Linked DNA regions of Homo sapiens: region 1 is linked to region 2. The links come from fine-mapping of genetic effects on gene expression. A gene starts in region 2. The other region holds a variant in brackets. All regions are shown on one strand. Distances are from middle to middle.

Evidence for each region. PIP is the estimated chance that this variant, and not a neighbour inherited with it, causes the effect.
Region 1: its variant is the best candidate, but not a certain one, in a credible set for the expression of POLR2H in monocytes (Quach 2016, PIP 0.66).

What each region holds. Positions count from the first base shown.
Region 1 is chr3:183,755,757-183,766,237 of GRCh38, reverse strand. It overlaps YEATS2 (YEATS domain containing 2), which reads right to left. Exons shown (of 31, transcript NM_018023.5): 12 at 9,549-9,710; 13 at 7,273-7,376; 14 at 4,624-4,731; 15 at 3,959-4,141. Among named protein-coding and RNA genes, the nearest start is that of YEATS2-AS1, 49 kb to the left of the region's middle. The variant T/A (reference allele first, on the strand shown) is at 6,251.
Region 2 is chr3:184,356,093-184,366,331 of GRCh38, reverse strand. It overlaps POLR2H (RNA polymerase II, I and III subunit H), which reads right to left and starts at 4,622. Exons shown (of 6, transcript NM_006232.5): 1 at 4,186-4,622; 2 at 2,767-3,459; 3 at 1,283-1,366; 4 at 1,106-1,199. The coding sequence starts at 2,839. CLCN2 (chloride voltage-gated channel 2) reads left to right here and starts at 4,727. Exons shown (of 24, transcript NM_004366.6): 1 at 4,727-4,915; 2 at 7,201-7,357; 3 at 7,519-7,650; 4 at 8,022-8,150; 5 at 8,237-8,370; 6 at 8,476-8,553; 7 at 8,634-8,712; 8 at 8,845-8,970; 9 at 9,066-9,150; 10 at 9,238-9,339. The coding sequence starts at 4,853. LOC124906311 (a long non-coding RNA gene) reads right to left here and starts at 6,005. Exons shown (of 3, transcript XR_007096193.1): 1 at 5,575-6,005; 2 at 5,382-5,468; 3 at 5,021-5,113. RefSeq lists enhancers at 2,183-2,252, 2,613-2,732, 6,070-6,581, 6,582-7,095 and silencers at 2,953-3,132, 3,193-3,462, 3,533-3,802, 4,363-4,952.

The DNA.
Region 1 (10,481 bases), 600 kb after region 2:
ACCAGGGCTCAGAACCTGCACAGGTTACACCAGTAATGAGTGGCTGAGATCTGAGATTTGCAACAAGCTCTAACTGCAAAGCTCATGCTCCTTCTACTTTAACACACTGCTTCCTTCCCATATGGAACTACTTATTCCTCAGTTGTCCCTTTTCATGTCAAAGGCAGCACCTCTTCCCACTTTGAGGAAAAAGATCAGCTGTGTTTCTGTTGTCCCAAAGTTGTATGGAGGGTAAAACAGTGCCATTTTTTGCCACCCTCCTGTTTCCTGGCATATCTTTTTTTTTTTTTTTAGACAGAGTCTTGCTCTATCTCCCAGGCTGGAGTACAGTGGCGTCATCTCAGTTCACTGCAACCTTGACCTCCCAGGTTCAAACAATTCTCCTGCCTCAGCCTCCCAAGTAGCTGGGATTACAGGTGCACACCACCATGTCTGGCTAATTTTTGTATTTTTAGTAGAGACAGGGTTTCACCATGTTGGCCAGGCTGGTCTCGAACTCCTGACCTCAGGTGATCTGCCCACCTCAGCCTCCTAAAGTGCTGGAATTACAAGCATGAACCACACACCCAGCCTGTTCTCTGGCATAGTTTCTAGGAATGCACTTCAGCAATAACCAGGAACAGTCTGTACTCACAGACAGCTCCTTATCTCAACTGCTAATCATGGATTCCATTTCCTGGGTAAACAGTGGTATCATCTCACGCACTACTGCTTCTCTGCAGTTCCTTCACACTTTGCTGTGGTTTTTCTTTTCAGATGCCCTTAAACCATATTTAGGGCATTGTGGCACAGACCCACCTATCTCCTCCAACCTTACATTTACCATTAAGTAGGTGGCCATGTGACAAGTCAGTACAGTTGTTCAGCATCACTGGAGGAGTGGATTGGCAATATGCAAAGCGGCAAAAAATGGAAACGAACTTATCCAAGAGCTTCTAACATAAACAGCAATGCTAAGTTGATTCAAAGCAGAAATCAGTAAAGCCACATATCCCTATGTGAAGCAAAACAGATTTTGAGGTACATATACGACAAGCCTGAGTAGGAAGTTCAGATGACAATAACTGATTTACTAAGGGATTTTGGCAGAATTCTTACCCCTGAAGCCAGAACCACAGTGGGAGCACTAGTAAGCAGTTGGGGATGCCTGTCTTAGTCATTCTGGCTACGAATGCCTCAAAGTCAAATGAGATGCTGTAGCACCATGATTCCTAAATCTGCTGCCTAAGTAGATGAATCAGCAGAAACACTTATTAAAAACCCAGATTCCCAGGGATCTCAAGAAGAATCCGATGCAGTAAGTTTGAGATGGTGGCCTAGGTAGCTATCAGCAGATGATTCTTATAACCAGGTAAGTCTGAGAAAGTCGTTAATAAACTTAACAGATTTTAGAACCACCGATAACACCACGAATTTTATTTTATTTTTTTGAGATGGAGTTTTGCTCTTGTTGCCCAGGCTGGAGTGCAATAGCAAGATCTCGTCTCACTGCAACCTCTGCCTGCCGGGGTCAAGCGTTTCTCCTGCCTCAGCCTCCCGAGTAGCTGGGATTACAGGCGCCCGCCACCACGCCCAAATAATTTTTTGTATTTTTAGTATAGACGGGGTTTCACTATGTTGGCCTGATCTCGAACTCCTGACCTCAGGCGATCCACCCGCCTTGACCTCCCAAAGTGCTGGAATTATAGGCGTGAGCCACTGCGACAAGCTCTATGAATTTTTAAGTTGATCCTAATCTCTATCTGATAGCTAAAATCTTTTTCGATTTTGGGCTATTCTTAAAACAATTCATTCTCCTTAGATAGGTAGGCTGGGTTTCAAGCTGAAAAACATCTATATGATATCTTTTTTTTTTTTTTTTTTTTTTTTAAACAGAGTTTCACTCGTTGCCCAGGCTGGAGTGCAATGGTGCGATCTCAGCTCACTGCAACTTCCACCTCCTGTGTTCAAGCCATTCTCCTGCCTCAGCCTCCTGACTAGTTGAGATTACAGGAGCCCGACACCATGTCCACCTAATTCTTGTATTTTTGGTAGAGACAGTTTCACCAAGTTGACCAGGCTGGTCTTCAACATCTGACCTCAGGTGATAACGCACGCCTCAGCCTCTCAAAGTGCTGGGATTACGGGCGTGAGCCACCGTGCCCAGCCATTGTTTTTTGTTTTTTTGTTTTTGAGACAGTCTCCCTCTGTCACCCAGGCTGAAATGCAGTGGCACAGTCTTGGCTCACTGCAACCTCCGCCTCCTGGGTTCAAGTGATTCTCCTGCCTCAGCCTCCCAAGTAGCTGGGATTACAGGTGCATGCCACCCACCACGCTCGGTTTTTGTATTTTTAGTAGAGATGGGGTTTCACCACGTCGGACAGGCTGGTCTCAAACTCCTGACCTGAAGTGATCTGTCCGCCTTGGACTGCCAAAGTGTTAGGTGGCTCACAGGTGTGAGCCACCATGCCGAGCCCATATTATATACTTAATAGCTTTAGAGTATACCTGCCAAAAGTTGAGGTAATTTAACCCTGATGCTCTGAAAGCATACCAAGGTTAGAGACAACCACTTTTCATTAGTTCTGAAATGGGGAGCTTGGAGTTAGCAGGCCTGACTTTAAACACTTTGTCATTTATTAGCTGTAATGCTCCCAAGGAAACTGTTTAACCTCTGAGCCACAGTTTCCTCATTTGTAAAACAGGGATGAAAATCCCCACCCTCCAGGGTTGTGTGTGGATTATAGAAAATGTAGAAATACAAGCATGGCATACACAAAAGCACTCAATATTGATACCATAGTCATCTACCACATTAACGATGTTTTAGTCAATGACAGACTGCATATATTAACAGTGGTCCCATAAGATTATAACACTGTATTTTTACAGTATCTTTTCTATATTTAGATATGTTGAGATCCACAAATACTTATTGTTCTATTACAACTTCCTATAGTATTCAATAGTAACATGCGGAACAGGTTTACAGCCTAGGAGCAATAGGCCACACCATACAGCCTAAGTGTGTAGTTAGCTATTCTATCTGGATTTAAGTACACTGCGATGTTCACACAACAAAATCACCTAATGACACGTCTCAGAATGTACCATCATCAGGTGATGCATGGCTACATTTCCAATTGATTCAGGAAAACATGGCTCTATGTGCTATTTTTTTTTTTAATTTTTTAATTTTTATTTTTTTGAGACAGAGTCTCTCTCTGTCACCCAGGCTGGAGTGCAGTGCCGCGATCTCAGCTCACCGCAACCTCTGCCTCCCAGGTTCAAGCAATTCTCCTGCCTCAGTCTCCCGAGTAGCTGGGATTACAGGCATGTGCCACCACACCCCGCTAATATTGTATTTTTAGTAGAGATGGGGTTTCTCCATGTTGGTCAGGCTGGTCTCGAACTCCTGCCTTCAGGTAATCCGCCCGCCTCAGCCTCCTAAAGTGCTGGGATCACAGGCGTGAGCCACCATGCCCGGCCTCTATGTGCTATTTTAAAATTCTCTCAATACATTAATTCTCCTGTACCTCCAAATTATTAAAAAAAAAAAAGAACTCTACAGAAAGCTAAGAATCATTAAACAGGTAACAGCCCGAACATCAGAGGTATAAACTACAGCATTCTCCTACCATAAATAAACAAGTCAACAGCGGATCCCTTTTAGAGATGAATCAAGTAGAAAGCTGTGCCCATGAGTCAGCTCTGCCTCCACTGCCAGAGACAGCAGTGTTCCCCTGCCTCTTGGCCCATTCCGGGATCCTTTGCAATACATAACGCGGCTCTTGCCAATGATTACTACAGGAGTAGAAGAGTTTCACACCAACAGACTTGTTTTTCCAACTAGGCTTTCACCCACAGGTTCTTATGGGATCATCAACCCTGTCACCGTGAATCTTTTCAGCACTTGTCAATTATTTAGGCAAACAACATCATTTACATGTGAAATTTCCCATCTCTACCCAACACAAACCTTGGAGGGCTGAACCTTTGCTGACTGGGCAATCCCTTCTCCAGGAGTTATGACCTGTTTTTGAGGGGACACAGCTATCATGTGACCCCCTTTCACAGTCACATACTGCGGGAGTGGTGACTGGCTGGCAGCTCCTGTTGCGGGCACGTGAGGGGCTTCACCAGGTTCCTGTTTGATGATCACCTTGCAACAAACATAATGACACTGAATAAACATCCATAAACATCCCATTTTATAAAGCTGCTAATATCTGACTCTTCTCCGTTTGCAGGGATTAATGAATTGATGAAACTTGATACGTAAAGAATGACTCCACCAGAAGGGTAAATATACATACTGCTTAAATACAGTCCATACCAGCTATTAAAGGGACCAAAAGTAGGATCTGAACTTGATCCTGTGCTCCTGTAATAACACAGTCACTTGTTTTAGAGACTGTGGCAAATGACAGCAGAGAGAAACAAACACACTGTGCTCCATGAATCCCCATCTTGCTGGACTCCAAGGGCTGCCCTGAGGACATCATTAAATACATGGAAGCACGTCTCAGAATGAGGAGTTGAGACCCACTAAAAAGTAACATGTTGTAGGGGTAGTGGCAATGAACTCCAACATGCCACAAAAAGTATTATGACTTGTGGGACAATGCCCTAATACATACTCACTTTTGTGAAAGCTCCAAGTCCTCCTGTTATAGGTTTGGGGCTTTGAACCTTAGGGTGACTCCCAATTGGGCAAAGAGGTGGCATAGATGCAAACAAAGAATCCTCCTGCTGTGTGTGTAAAAATACATATTTTACAATCAGGAGAAATGGGTGATTTCAGATATCTAGTCACTTATATTTAATACAAACCTGTGACATTCTCTAGCAATATAAAGAAATAAAAAGACTGGCTGGGTGCGGTAGCTCACGCCTGTACTCCCAGCACTTTGGGAGGCAGAGGTGGGTGGATCGCCTGAGGTCGGGAGATCAAGACCAGCCTGACCAACACGGAGAAACCCTGTCTCTACTAAATATACAAAATTAGCCGGGTGTGGTGGCGGGTGCCTGTAATCCCAGCTACTTGGGAGGCTGAGGCAGTAGAATCACTTGAACCAGGGAGGCAGAGGTTGTGGTGAGCCGAGATCACGCCACTGCACTCCAGCCTGGGTGACAAGAGCAAAACTCCGTAAAAAAAAAAGAAAGAAAAAAACCTAAAATTCCTTGGGGTCTTCCAAGCCTCTACACCTGCATTTTAATATTGTTTTAGAAAACAAATGCAAAGAAAAGCTGTAACTTGGCAAGAATCTACTCATCTGTGTCCTGCTGTACACTGGAAAGACTTCTAACTTACTACCCCTAACATTTGGCTGACTTTATTGGTCTTCCCCGATAGTTGGTAAACCACTAAAGGACAGGGACTGTATTTAATTTTATATCCCTGGAGCCTAGGCACTAAATAAATAAATGAAAGAAACAGGCAGCTGCAATGTTTCAGTATATACTCTCTTTTAATAGTACTCACAACTGATTTGCAAAATTTACTCAATGAACACCCAGAATACAAAGGAAAAATTTTCAATAAAAACTTAAAAAACAAGCAAACAAACAAAAAACTTGAATAATTTGGCACAGGCAAAGACAACGAAAGTCAACATTCAAAACTTCTGTAGTTCTGGCCAGGCGCAGCGGCTCACGCCTGTAATCCCAGCACTTTGGGAGGCTGAGGCGGGCAGATTACCTGAGATCAGGAGTTCGAGACCAGCCTGACCAACGTGGAGAAACCCCGTCTCTACTAAAAATACAAAATTATCCGGGCGTGGGGCGCATGCCCTGTAACCCCAGCTACTCAGGAGACTGAGACCGCAGAATCGCTTGAACTCAGGAGGCAGGAGGTTGCAGTGAGCCAAGATTGCGCCACTGCACTCCAGCCTTGGCAACGAGAGCGAAACTCTGTCTCAAAAAAAAAAAAAAAAAAAAAAAAATTCTGTAGTTTCTCTTTAATTCTCAAACACAAAATGCAAATCTCAGAGGTAATCTGTCAAAATTTGGAAACGAAGAACACTTCTTGGCTGTAAAGTAAAATGATCACCAACAAACAATAAAAATTAAACCAGCAGAGTTAAGACTTTCAAGATTACTATAATTCAGACATTCATATAACAGTGCCAACACACTGCACAGAACTTAGAGAACAGCCTCGCCTTGGACCAGGAAGTCATTCAATATCATCATTAGTGTCTAAATAAAAGAAATGCTGTGTCAGGCACCAGTCATTTGACTGGAACAGGTCAGATCATATTTGGAGTTG[T/A]AAATTTTAAAGGACTGCTTACCCAGAAAAAGGGGAGCAGGGGAGAGACTCTGTGGAGGTAAGCATTATTTTCAAATAGCTAAACGGTTAACACATGGAAAAGGAAACACTGATGCTCCCCGACTTAGGATGGGGTTACGTCTGGATAAACCCATCATAAGGGGAAAACATCATAGGCCAAAAGTGCATTTTTGACTTCCCACACTTTCACCGTATGGTGGGTTTATCTGAATATAACCCCAGCGTAAGCTGAGGGCTCGCTAAGTGCATATTGCTTTTGCACCACGGTAAAGTCGAAAAATCGTTAAGTTGGACCACTGTAAGGTGGGAGCCATTTGTATATTTACTTCTTGGTGATGCAAACATAGAAAAGATAGGAACGTGCTGTCAGATGAATGTTTTTATATTTTTAAATTTTTATTTTTTTTATGGGTTAAGGAGCAGAAAGTTTAATAAGCAAAAGAAAGGGGAGAGGACAGCAGCTCTCTGTTGCGAGAGAGAGAGGTGTCCAAAAGGGAAGAGGTCAGATGAATATTTTTATAAGCAAGTATTTTTAACAAACTTTTCAAATAAGTAAATAAATAATCTTATCACAGTAAGTTTTTAAATTGATACTGGGTGACTATTTCACACAAGTGTTGTGAAGCATTTGTGACACTATGAAAAGATCCAAGTAAGGTAGTAAAGTCTGGAGTAGATCCAAGTAAGTTAGTAAAGTCTGGGGGTAGTAAAGTCTAGATACTTAACAGCTTGAAGATTCCATTTTATGAAATTTGCGTCATCAACTGACACATTCTTGCTGAGGCTGAACATACTATGTTCAGAAACCGGCAAAGTGGCGGGGTGCAGCTCATGCCTGTAACCGCAGTACCCTGGCAGGTGAGGTGGCAGATCTCTTGAGGCCAGGAGTTCGATACAGCCTGGTTAATACGGGGAGACCCCATCTCCATTTGAAAAATTATTTTTTAAAAATGAAAAGAAAAAGAAGCTAGCAAAGTGTAATAACGCAGTAAGAATGTTACCTTGACAGTAGATGTTACAAAACTACTTCCATGAATTTTAGGAACAGGGGAACCTGTTCCTTGGGAGACCTGAGAAGCCGTGGAGATCTTGTTTGTAGGACTTCCTGATAAGCAAGGCACAATTAAAACATAAACAAAGTAAAATTTACAAAAGGTAATTTTAAAGCATTTCTACCATCCTCCCCTCTTTCGCACTATTTATTTTTCATGTTTAAGGGTTGAAAACTCATTGTTAAGGCTGAAACTAGTATGGAAAAAAACCCTTAAGGACCCATCCCTGTGAAGCTGATCTCATGCTCAACCTGAAGAAGGTAAGAAGCTGGTAAGGACATGCAGAAGAATAAGTAGTAAAGTCACTTGTTTTAGACTACTCCTTGTACAATAAACAGTAGCATATTCTCGTATATTCTACTCCTTATACAATAAAAGACACTATAACGTATTCTACTTGTATGTTCTACTCCTCATACAATAAAAGACACTACAACATAATGATACTGTTTAACAAATGTGCCAGAATATATGCATTCTGCTAGCTCCTTCAAAGTAGTTTCACCAGAAAGTTATGCCTATTCCAAAATGCTGCCAACATTATTATTTTTTTTTCCTGAGATGGAGTCTCGCTCTGTCACCCGGGGTGGAGTGCAGTTGCCTGATCTCGGCTCACTGCAACCTCCACCTACTGGGTTCAAGTGATTCTCCCACCTCAGCCTCCCCAGTAGCTGGGACTACAGGCACGCGCTACCACACCTGGCTAATTTTTCTATTTTTAGTGGAGATGGGTTTCGCCATGTTAGCCAGGCTGCTCTCGAACTCCTGACCTCAGGTGATCCGCCCACCTTGGCCTCCCAAAGTGCTGGGATTATGGGCATGAGCCACCACGCCTGGCCAACATTAAACATTTTATACTCCATCTGTACAACTGCCTTTAGAGTCTGAAAAAAATTTAGTCATATATTACCTATAGTCAACAAGTCAAGACCCCAAATAGTATTTAATCATTTACTCCATTTACCAAACTTGCCTCCAAAGACTTCTAGCTGATTCCTAAAACAAAATGTCATGAAATAACACCTATTTGGCATCCTTAAGTATGTTCGAAAGGTACTGGGTAAGCCTTGAACACAGTAATTTTTAAGGGCATTCCACAATTACAATCACTATTAAAATTTAGCCTTTCCAAAAAAAAAAAAAACTGCTTGGAAAAGCCCAACATACATTCATGTGTTAAATCCAATAGGTCAAACAAACAACAACAAAAAAATCAGTCTCATTATCTTATAATCATCCCTTTTATTTCATTTATCTTCTATTTCTCTTAATTAGAAGTGAAAACTTCAGGGAAGTTTATAGTTAGGAGCGTGTGTTTAAATACAGGTTGAATGGGGCCAGGCGTGGTAGCTCACGCCTGTAAATCCAGCACTTTGGGAGGCTGAGGCAGGTGGATTGGAGTTTGAGACCAGCCTGGCCAACATGGTGAAACCCCATCTCTACTAAAAATACAAAAATTAGCTGGGCGTGGTGGTGCACGCCTGTAATTCCAGCTACATGGGAGGCTGAGGCAGGAGAATTGCTTAAACCCAGGAGGTGGAGGTTGCAGTGAGCCGAGATCACGCCACTGCACTCCAGCTTGGGTGAAAAGAGCAAGACTCTGTCTCAATAAATTAATAAATTAATTAATTAACAATAAATACAGGTTAACTGAAGGGAATAAATAAAATAATGTTAGAGAAAGCATTTCAAAAAAACCTAAAAAGCATGGGATTACAGTGAGGAACACGGTGAACCCAAGGATGACTTTTTCCTATTAGAGTTCTCTTTAAAACTGCAGGTTTCAATTTCCCCTCCCACAAGCAGAATGGGTCTTCCTTGAAGAAAATAATATCATTTTTTATTTGACTGGGGAGAACGGTATGTGGCCCACAAGGTTAGCAAAAGCTTCTTTGGAAGAGGTAGTAACCACATTGCTTACAGTCCCCCAAAGCGTAAGTCTTCCAAATGAAAACAAAATCAACTATTCTTTTAAGAACATTCATTATGGCTTATTTTGAACTTTTAGAAATTAAAAGAAAACTCAAGTAAATTCTAAAAAATGCAACTTTTACAGAGTAAATCTCCCCTCAGAGAAAGAGTATTGGCTTTCCTTTTACTTATTCTCGCTTCTCGTTTACGGGAGATTTCATTCTCCAATTACATGGCTACCAAGTCATGGCAGGATTACATTTTTAATAAAGATCAAACCCTTTAGATGGTACAAATATGGATCTAATACACACCTGTACTGGGAGTGGTGGCTCCAATCACCTGCCCCGGCTGCTTGTCCATGATAACATAAGGATTATTAATAACAGAGCCGGCAGTGCCTTGCTTCACGTGGACTGGAGTGGAAGTCGGGGTTCGAGGCAATGGTGATGGGCTTGGAGTTGATATTGGGGAACCTTATTAATTAAAAAGAGAGAATACAAACAAAATACACATATTCAACTCACGTAAGAAGATGTCGAGGACAAGGAAGAAGGTCAGTGCCACCAGGACAAAGGTAACAAATTGGGAAAATAAAATGGATACTGCGTGCTCCCGGTACTGAGCAGCAACAGAGGTACAAAGGAGGCAGAGGATGTATGTTTCATGCTCTGCATCCTTATCCATGGATCAACAGCATCAGTATCATCGAGGAAATTGTAAGAAACAGATTTTATGGTCCCATCCTTGACCTACTAAACATAAATCTCACTTCAACAAGATCTCCTGGTATGCACCTTATAGTTCAGAAAGCAGTGCTTTACACAGCAGTGCAAAACTGCTGAACCTTTTTTTGTAACTGCTGAATCTTGATATGATAAATCTTTTAACACCATAGGCAGGCTTTTATAGTACTGGTTATACTCGAAGACACTAAAATTAGAGACCGGGCATGAGACACCAGGTGCAGTGGCTCGTGCCTGTAATCCCAGCACTTTGGGAGGCCGAGGCAGGCGGATCACCTGAGGTTGTGAGTTCGAGACCAGCCTGACCAACATGGAGAAACCCTGTCTCTACTAAAAATACAAAATTAGCTGGGTGTGGTGGCGCATGCCTGTAATCCCAGCTCCTCGAGAGGCTGAGGCAGGAGAATCGCTTGAACCCGGGTGGCGGAGTGAGCCGAGATCGTGCCATTGCACTCCAGCCTGGGCAACAAGAGCAAAACTCTGTCTCAAAAAAAAAAAAAA
Region 2 (10,239 bases):
TGGTAACTAAATGCCAGCATTATAACAACAGGCACATTACAAACATGATGTCATTTAGTCCTCATGGCAACCCCATGAGCTAGGCATGACCATCTCTATTTTATTGATGAGGAAACAGGCTGAAGGAGATTAAGGTTACTCAACAAATAAGTGGTAGAGCTGAGAAATGAACTCAAGTGGGGTGCCAAAGTCTTTCCATCACACCAAGCTCCCTCCCAAGACACAAGACCCACATGGCCTAGGTCACTCAGCAGTTACCTCCTCAGCCTTCAAAAGGCTGCAACTCACAAGCATGTAATCACTGTTATAGATAAATACCTGGTTGTTTGAATTTTTTTCTTTTTTTTTTTTTTTTTGAGACGGAGTCTCGCTCTGTCGCCCAGGCTGGAGTGCAGTGGCGGGATCTCGGCTCACTGCAAGCTCCGCCTCCCGGGTTCACGCCATTCTCCTGCCTCAGCCTCCCAAGTAGCTGGGACTACAGGCGCCCGCCACTACGCCCGGCTAATTTTTTTTTGTATTTTTAGTAGAGACGGGGTTTCACCGTTTTAGCCAGGATGGTCTCGATCTCCTGACCTCGTGATCCGCCCGCCTCGGCCTCCCAAAGTGCTGGGATTACAGGCGTGAGCCACCGCGCCCGGCCCGAATTTTTTTCTTTTTTTTTGAGACACGGTCTTGCTCTGTCACCCAGGCTGGAGTGCAGTGGTGCAATCATGGCTCACTGCAGCCTCAACCTCCCTGGCTCAGGCAATCCTCCCACCTCAGCCTCCCAGGCAGCTGGGACTACAGGCACATGACACCATGCCCAGCCTTTTTTTTTTTTCTCTCTTCTTTTTTGTAGCAGTGAGGTTTCGCTATGTTGCTCAGGCTGGTCTTGAACTCCTGGACTCAAGCAATCCTCCTGCCTCGGCCTCCCAAAGTGCTTGGGTTACAGGTGTGAGCCACGGTGCCTGGCCTGTTTGAATTCTTAAGTGCAGAAATTTCCTTAAGGTTACTCAGATTCTGCTGATCATCATTTATTCCAGGAATTTTAGAAGAGTCTTTCTATATCACTTATCTACTTAGTCCTCAAGGCATATTTCAAGTATTACCTTCTCCACTCCCTCACCTGGAAGGCCTATCATCAGTGGGGTTGTATTCACCATCATCCAGGGTACCATCTTCATACAAGGTACTAGCTATGACCAACCGAAACTTGTCACCTGAAAATAACAGCAATATCAGAGAGTAAAGAATAGCAGAAGCAGCAAAAAGTCTCTTATTATTGTCTGTATTCAATACTTACCCAAGTCTACAGGGTAAATTTGAATGTTTACATCTAAGATTAGATCCATCTTGAAAGATTCACTCTCACAATGCAGTCGAGACACTGGGGAGAAGCAGGAAAAGAGTGACAGAGGTATTGCCAAGGCAGATCCTACAGTGTGGGATTGTATGCAACAGGATACTCAATCTAACCCAGTCTACATCCAGTGGTCTCTCATCTGCTCTCATAGAAATTCAGGCTCAATCAGAACCAGATATGCAAGAAGGAAAAGGGGAGAAAAACTGTGGCAAGCGAACGTAATCCCCAGAAAACAACCAAAGATACTCCAGCAGCAAAGCCTGCCTGGATGACTGAGAACCTGACTCTGGGCAAGTTATTCAATCATCCAAAGGTTTTCTCTTTCTATGCTAGGCACTGTGCTGAGGGGAGTGACCAAGATGTATAAGAACTGGTATCCGTCTTGAAAAACATCTTAGTCTCCAGGCAAAGAAAGAGACATCAAAGAGAAAATTATTGATAGATGACAAAATAAAGAGGTGTAGGCCGGTGCAGTGGCTCATGCCTGTAATCCCGACATTTTGGGAGGCCGAGGCAGGTGGATCATTTGAGATCAGGAGTTTGAGACCAGCCTGGCCAACACGGTGAAACCCTGTCTCTACTAAAAATACAAAATTAGCCAGGCGTGGTGGCGCATGCCTGTAATCCCAGCTACTTGGGAGGTTGAGGCAGAGAATCGCTTGAACCCGGGAGACGGAGGTTGTGGTGAGCTAAAATCGTGCCACTACACTCCAGCCTGGGCAACAGAGAAAGGCTGCGTCTCAAAAAAAAAAAGGTATATACCAAGCAGCTAACTCTAACTCAAAGAAGACTTCACAAAGCGCTAAAGATTCTGAGGGCAATACAAGAATATAGGCTCTGAAGTCAGATTACTCGCTGTGAAGCCTTGGGTGGTTTACTCAACCTCTCAGAGAAAAATGGGAAAGGCACCACCCACCTCATGAGGACTGTCATTTTTTTGAGACGGAGTCTCGCTCTGCCGCCCAGGCTGGCGTGCAGTGGCGCGATCTTGGCTCACTGCAACCTCCGCCTCCCAGGTTCAGGCAATTCTCCTGCCTTAGCCTCCCAAGTAGCTGGGATTACAGGCGCCCGCCACCACGCCAGGCTAATTTTTGTATTTTTGGTAGAGACGGGGTTTCACCATGTTGGCCAGGCTGGTCTCACAAGACAGTGTCTAGCACAGAGCAGGTAGCGATTATAAATATGCCTAGGAGTTTGCCAGCACCATGACAAAAGGCCACCCAGGCACCGGGCACGGCATGCGTGAAGCCAGAGAGAGCTCGGGAGTCTCCGTTTTCTCATCCATAAAATGTTTACTGAGGGAGGTCCCTACACCAGGACCTGCTGGTAGGGGCAGGCCACAAGAGCTGGGTGGACACGGGGCCCAGGGGCATGTCCGCGAGGTTAGCCTCTTCCTCCAAACCGCCCCTACATACCTTACTTACCTCGGTCAAACTTCTTGCCCTCCGGGTCAATATCCTTCACATCGAAAATATCCTCAAACAGGATGCCCGCCATCGCGAGGGGGCCACGAGAGCAGCAGAAGGGGTGAGAGCGCGACCACAGTTGGGAGTACGTGCACCCCCTAGCGTGGACAAGACCGGAGAGAACCAAAAGCACCTCCTGAAAGCGCGGCGGCCAGACGAGAGTGGCGCATGCGCACAAACAAGCGGTAACGCGACCACTTCCGCCACAGCCTCCCGCTCGGGGCTACTTAACTTCCGTCCCGAAAGATTGCTTCCGAGAGGCTTCGGCATTGAGGGCGGGTCTCATGTCCAGGTGGCTCTGCCCAGGGCGGGGAAGCAATAGGCTGTAGAGCGGGTTCTCGCGCTCCGCTGGGGCCCTACTGCGCCCTCTTCAGAGGCCGGGTTCCGAAGACTGGAATGCGTGGGGGCCTAACCCAGGCAGGGACCTTGATCCTTGGCCCAGAGAAGCCGGGCCCTAGCCCTACCCCGCCGGTCCGCGTGCCCGCCGAGGGCACAGTCCGCGCCGAGGGCAGGTGGAGCAGAACCCCGCCCCAGAGGTGCCCAGCCCCTCCAGCCGGCACCGAGGACCCCGGGGCCGGCCTGGGCCGGCTCGGCCCTGCTGGACGTAACCCGAGCCGGATCCGTCCAGTTTGGGAATTTGCCATGACGTCGCTATGGAGAAGAGGAAAGCCTGCATTGTCCCCTCCTCTCGTACTGCACCCTCCCACCACTGCCCTCCCTCTTCCCCCCAGGCCCTGCTCTCTTCCCCTACACCGCCCCTTCAGCCGGGCTCCCGCCACCCCCCTCCCCCGGGCATTACCCCTCCAGCTTAGTGCTGCGCGTTCCCCCTCCACTGCCTTCTCCTGGACACGGATCCCCTCCGTGCCCCTTCAGCCTGGCACTGCCCTGTCCCTTGGATACCAGCTCTTCCCTCACACTGGCCCTTCCTCCTGAGTGCTGGCTTCTATCACAAGGCCCCCCCTTCCCGGGCACTGCTCCCGCCCCCTGAGCCCCGCCTCTGCCTCCCAAATGCCCCTTACTCCTGGTGCTGGCTCTCCCGCACACTTGTGCGTTTCCTGGGCGCTGCCCTCGCTCCTCTCACACTATCTCTACGCTGCCCATCCACCCTGCGCGCGCTCCGCCCTCTGTTCTATCCTTCCCCAGCCCCTGATAGAGAACCCAGAACACCAGCAGGCAGTTCCCCCAAAGCGGAGGGATGGAAGCAGCGACTTGGGTTCCTCCTTGGGCCCAGCCAGGGAGAAGCGACCCACGCCCGCGTCCCAGGAGTAGACTTCCCGGCACCTGGAGCTCCCTTCCCTCCGGCCTACCCCTTCCGGTGCCCTCCCCAACCTCCACCCCCGCACACCCCGCAGGCCCGGTTGCTCCAAGTGCACCTACCCACGGGAGCCCCGAGAAAAGGAAGGATGAGGAAGACGGCCCCAACCCTCTCCGAATCCTTCCAGCTTTGCTTTTCACCCCTGACGGGGCAGAGGGGCCTTCCCAGGCCTGTCTGGGCCGCTCGTCTCTTCGGAGGGGCAGAGGGGAGGCGGCTCCTAACGGGCTGACCCGGAGGAGTCCGATGTAGACAGCTCCGCAGCCCCCAGCCCCAACCCCTACGGAGCTCAGGCGTCTGCAGCCCCTCCTGCCTGGGCACGGGGAACCGCGAACCCGGGCCGGCCCCTCCACGTGCCAGTAGACCCGCCCCTCCCGGGCGCCCCTCTCCGACCCGGGCATCCGCAGGGAGCCGGCGCGGGCTTGCGCCTTCCCAGCGCCCCTTGCCGCCTCTCGGGAGGCCCCGCGCGGACCCCAGCCTGGCTGGGCCGTCCCCTCCGGATGGGCCGGCGGGCGGAGCAGCGCAGAGGGCACCGCCCTCGGCCCGCCCGCCGGGGAGGGGACGCGAGCGGGAGGCTGCGCCAGCGGCGCCCGCCGGGGGCCCGCCGCACTCTGCTCTCGGCCTCCCGGGCTGCGGGGACGGGACGGCTGCCGGCGCGGACTTTGCGGGCCGGGAGCCGAGTCCAGGACAGAGCCGGAACCGCCGAGGGAGGCGAGAGGGCAGTGCGCGGAGATGGCGGCCGCGGCGGCGGAGGAAGGGATGGAGCCACGGGCGCTGCAGTACGAGCAGACCCTGGTAAGTGAAGCTGAGCTGAGCCCCAGGAGTGCGCTCCGGGACCCCTGCTCCAGGTTACCCTGGGAAGCGCGAGGACCAGGGGCCTACCCTAATCCTGTCCTAGCATTTTGAGCTGGGGAAACTGAGGCTTGGAAGTCTGAGGCTGCAGGGCCGAAGGGATGGAAAACTGCATGCTGGTTTCTGGCTGAGGCTGAGGGCCTGCAGAGGACAAGGACACCAGGTACTTGTCTCAGGTGTCCTTCCCCTCACCCCACAACATGCACGTTTTCTTTGCACCTCCCCTTCACCACCTGGGCCCAAGTCTCAGCACCCCACTGCCCCTTCCGCGGCACCATTCACACCATTGAACTTTCTCTACGCCACTATCTCCACCACCCAAGACATTCTCTGTGTCCCTGCCATGTGCATGGCACCATGCTAAGCATAGAATCGAGTGTGTAGAAAGATGGTCAGCCCCAGACCCTACCTCTGGAGGCTCCACACCCAGCGTTGGCTCCAGGAGCCCCTCAGTTGACTCTGGAAAAAGGTGGCTTGCCACTCTGGGGGACAGGAGCTTTAGGGAGGGTGGGTGAAGCAGGAATGGGTGTGGGAATTGGGACCTTTGTCTATGCTGATGCGGGGTATCCAGCCCCCACCCACCCCAGGGTGTGTCCCCTGACCTCATTAGAAGCAGGGGTCCTGGGCTCTGAGCTGACTTATCGCCCCCATTGTTACTTGGTGTTTGAGAAGCCACGTGACCCTCCTCATGTCACTGGGGTGGAAGACCCAAGCCCTAGGGAAAGGAAGGGGCCCGTGGTTCCTTTTTACCAGCTTGGGCTGGAATTTGCCCAGGAAGGTGGCAGGGAGGGAACGTCTTGGAGAGGAGAGGCTATAAGTCTGGGAGGTGCCCAGTTAGGAGAAAGTAGCTGGATGAATCAGGATGTCAGGGAGAGGTGGGAGTAGAGCAAGGGTAGAGGGGCCAACCCTTGGGATGGGGTAGGAGACACTTGCCAATCTGCCCAGACCAGGATAGGAGCATGGTCAAGGAAGCCAGGCACCTGGCCTCTGAAATGGTGCCTCTTAACACCAGCCACCTCTCCATCTCCGTCCCTTCCAGCTGTCTCTGGAATGAGCTCTCAGGGTCGAGCTCTGTCCCGGGCACTCTGTGCTCCAGCCTGCTCCCGCCCCCCTTCACCATCCTATCCCTTTGTCTTTCTCTCCCACTCTCACCTCCCTCCTCCTACACCGTGCTTGCCTCTTAATACTCTCCATTCTCTTCCTCCTCCGTACTTCTTCCTCTCTCATCCCCTTCTTTCTCTTCTCCATCCCTTCGCCTTCCCTCTCTTTTCTCTTCTACTTTCTCCTCTCTAGTTCCCTCTCTTCTCTTTGCTTTCCCTTTCCTATCTCTCACCCTCTCTCTGTCTCTATCTTTCCCTCCCTCCCTCCCCCCCATCCCAGCCCCAACAGGAGCCCTTTGTGTCCCGAAGCTCTGCGGGTGGCAGCCAGAATCTACTCCTCCCCGCCCCCCAACACACGCCCAGCTTGGCAGGTCTAGCCATGGTTCAGGCGACTCTCCCGTCCCATCACCCCAGCATCCACAGTCACAGCCCAGCCATCCTCAGCCTCCGCTGTCCCCCAACCCACCGCTGGGCTCAGTGCAGCTCCAGAATGGGGCTGAGGCCACCAAGCCCTCTCCACCCACCCTAAGTGAGAGGCTTTCCACTCCCAGCTGGGCTGGCAGGCTGGTGGGGGTGGCAGTGGAGAATGGGGACAAGGGGATTAGGGTGGGTGGGAGAGGTGCAGCTGAGTTGGTCACAGGCCGGAGGCCCAGCAGGAACGTGATAAGGATTGGGGCTGCGCCTGCTCCTGGGCCCAACTCAGCTGCCCCGAGCTCCACGAGGCTCTTATTGTTGCCCATGTGCCCCTGATCATCCCTTACTCCCTGGCCTTCCCGCCTCCCACTTTTAGACTGTGCCACAGGTTTTTCCACCTTTTCCTCTTCTGGGGCTTCCCTCTCACTCCTCTTCAGTGCCCCAGCCCCAGGCCTGTGAGAAGAGGACCGATTATTCTGCCACCCCCAGAGCTGTGTCCCTGTACCTTGGCTGTCCCCATCACTCTGGCCAGGACAGCCTCCACAGTCTGCAATGTGCATTGTTCCCACACCTCGGGCCAGAGTGGGAACTGTGCGTTCAAGAGGGATATCCAGTGTGGGGGCTGGGAGAAGAGGAGTGGAGGCTCTAAGAACTCTCCCTGCGTTCCCACTCAGCCCATGACCTCGAATGCCCCCATCCCCTCTGTTGCTCCAGATGTATGGCCGGTACACTCAGGACCTTGGGGCCTTTGCCAAAGAGGAAGCTGCTCGGATTCGCCTGGGAGGGCCTGAACCCTGGAAAGGTCCCCCTTCCTCTCGGGCTGCCCCAGAGCTCTTGGAATATGGACGGAGCCGTTGCGCCCGATGCCGCGGTGAGAACTGGGGTGGGGGCAGGGGACCTGGCTGTGCTGTGCTGAGGGAAGCAGAGGCCATTAGAGCTGCTGATGGGGGAGAGGGGACAGTTGAGGGGGCAGTAAAAGGGGTAGGAGCACTTTGGTGCCATCCTCCCCCTTCTTCCCTTCCCTGCACCCAGTCTGTTCTGTCCGCTGCCACAAGTTCCTAGTATCCAGGGTTGGTGAAGATTGGATCTTCCTGGTCCTGCTGGGGCTTCTCATGGCATTGGTCAGCTGGGTCATGGACTATGCCATTGCTGCCTGTCTGCAAGGTGAGGGTGACAGCTGGCAGGGGGAGGACTGGGAATAAACCTCCTGCGTCCATGCCACACTCGTCTAGACATGGAGGAAGGCGTCTTGGCTTCTTGGCCACTGACCACTTTCCCCAGCCAGTCTGACTGCCCAGATTCAGGCATCATCTCGGCCACTCCCACAGGGCACAGCTTCTTGCATCCCCTCTCCAAGTGATCCTCTTGCCTAGATTGCGCTTTGTCCCAGTGAATACCCTCAGGGACCCTTTCCTTCACCCATGCCCTGACTCTGTGTGGTACTCCCTGGGACAGCCTGTCGTATCAGCGTGGTCCACTGGCCAGGCAGGCAGTGGGTGTGTGCACTGGGGGTCCAGCAGGTCCTCTTCCCACAGCCCAGCAGTGGATGTCCCGGGGCTTGAACACCAGCATCTTGCTCCAGTACCTGGCCTGGGTCACCTACCCTGTTGTCCTCATCACTTTCTCAGCCGGATTCACACAGATCCTGGCCCCTCAGGCTGTCGGTATGTTAGAAGAGAAGGGGAGGGCAGAGGCGGGACCCCTGAAATGGGTGCATCGAATGCCTCTCCTGAGACTGTTCCCTCTCCAGGCTCTGGCATCCCTGAGATGAAGACCATCTTGCGGGGAGTGGTGCTGAAAGAATACCTCACACTCAAGACCTTTATAGCTAAGGTCATTGGGCTGACCTGCGCCCTAGGCAGCGGGATGCCGCTTGGCAAAGAGGTAACTGCAGGCTGGGGAATGAAGGAGTCCCTCCTGGTGGAAGAGGAGGCCAGGCCAAGGTCAGGGCGGGCCCCCTCCCGACTCACCGCCTGCCCCACCCCGCAGGGCCCTTTTGTGCATATCGCAAGCATGTGTGCTGCCCTTCTCAGCAAGTTCCTCTCCCTCTTTGGGGGTATCTATGAGGTAAGGGGAACCCTGGGGCAAGTAGGGGGCAGAGGCTGCTGAGCCCACAGCTGACCCCCTCTTGCCACCACTCTCGCCAGAATGAATCCCGGAACACAGAGATGCTGGCTGCCGCCTGTGCCGTGGGGGTGGGCTGCTGCTTCGCGGCACCTATTGGAGGTAGGCAGGGCTCCTAGGTCAGTCCAGCCCCACAACCCTGCCCTTGGCCTCTCCTCCTTGGCCCCTCTTATCTGGGTCTGAGGCCTTAGGCCAGGCCCAGGCCTCAAGTGCTGGTCTCCCTCCCCCTCACAGGCGTCCTCTTCAGCATCGAGGTCACCTCCACCTTCTTTGCAGTGCGGAACTACTGGCGGGGCTTCTTCGCTGCCACCTTCAGTGCCTTCATCTTCCGGGTCTTGGCAGTCTGGAACCGGGATGAAGGTGGGGGCACCCAGGGGATGAGGGCAGCCCGAGATGGTGCCAGGTAGGGGGCCCACGAGGCTAGGCCTGCCTCCCTCTGCTGTTCTTCCCTTTAGAGACTATTACAGCCCTCTTCAAAACCCGATTCCGGCTCGACTTCCCCTTTGACCTGCAGGAGCTGCCAGCCTTTGCTGTCATTGGGTGAGGAGCTGAGGGGGCTGGGGGTATCAGAGAGGAGGGGGGTTTCTAGAAGGCTCCTTTTCACTCAGGTGCCTCTTCCCTTTCCAGTATTGCTAGTGGCTTCGGTGGAGCCCTCTTTGTCTACCTGAACCGGAAGATTGTCCAGGTGATGCGGAAGCAGAAAACCATCAATCGCTTCCTCATGAGGAAGTGAGTGGCTCTCGGCTCCTCTCCAGGCTGCTTTGAGTTGTATAAGGGCCACAGTAGGTCAGGGGACAGTGATGGGGAGAGAATGGCCCAGTCAAAACAGGCACTTCACTGAGAAATCAGCCAGCAGTGTTTTCCAGGCTGACTGAGCATTTTTATATTCATATGAATTACCTGAAAATTGGCATTTTTAAGTTTATAGTCAGCGGTAGAGGACATTTGGGAATCAAAGACTAAGGCCTCCTCAGGTCCTCTGGGCTGGCCCATATAGGAATGCTCCCTGGAGAGTGTTTGAGCCTCAGGTTCCCCCCATGACCCATGGGGATAGATGAGATCTCTTTTTTTTTTTTTTTTTTGAGACGGAGTTTCACTCTTGTTGTCCAGGCTGGAGTGCAATGGTGCGATCTCGGCTCACCGCAACCTCCGCCTCCTGGGTTCAAGCGATTCTCCTGCCTCAGCCTCCCAAGTAGCTGGGATTACAGGCATGCACCACCACGCCCGGCTAATTTTGTATTTTTTAGTAGAGACAGTTTCGCCACGTTGGTCAGGCTGGTCTCGAACTCCCGACCTCAGGTCTGCCCACCTTGGCCTCCCAAAGTGCTGGGATTACAGGCGTGAGCCACTGTGCCCGGCCGAGATTTTTTTTTTTTTAATCTCCAGAACACAGCTCTCTCAGTGTGACCCTGAGGATTGGGAGTGGGGAGGGCGAGACATGACTTCCCTTGGGACTGACATCCTTCAGAGAGAGGGCAGCCAGCTGAACCTGCTCCCTACGCACCTCTGGTCAACTTTACAAGTGACCCCAGCTTCCCCCAACATTGACCTTCACTCTAAGTCACTGCAGAGAGACAAAGAGAGGCAGAAACTTCTCCACCCCATCACACAATATGCCCTGATGGGCTT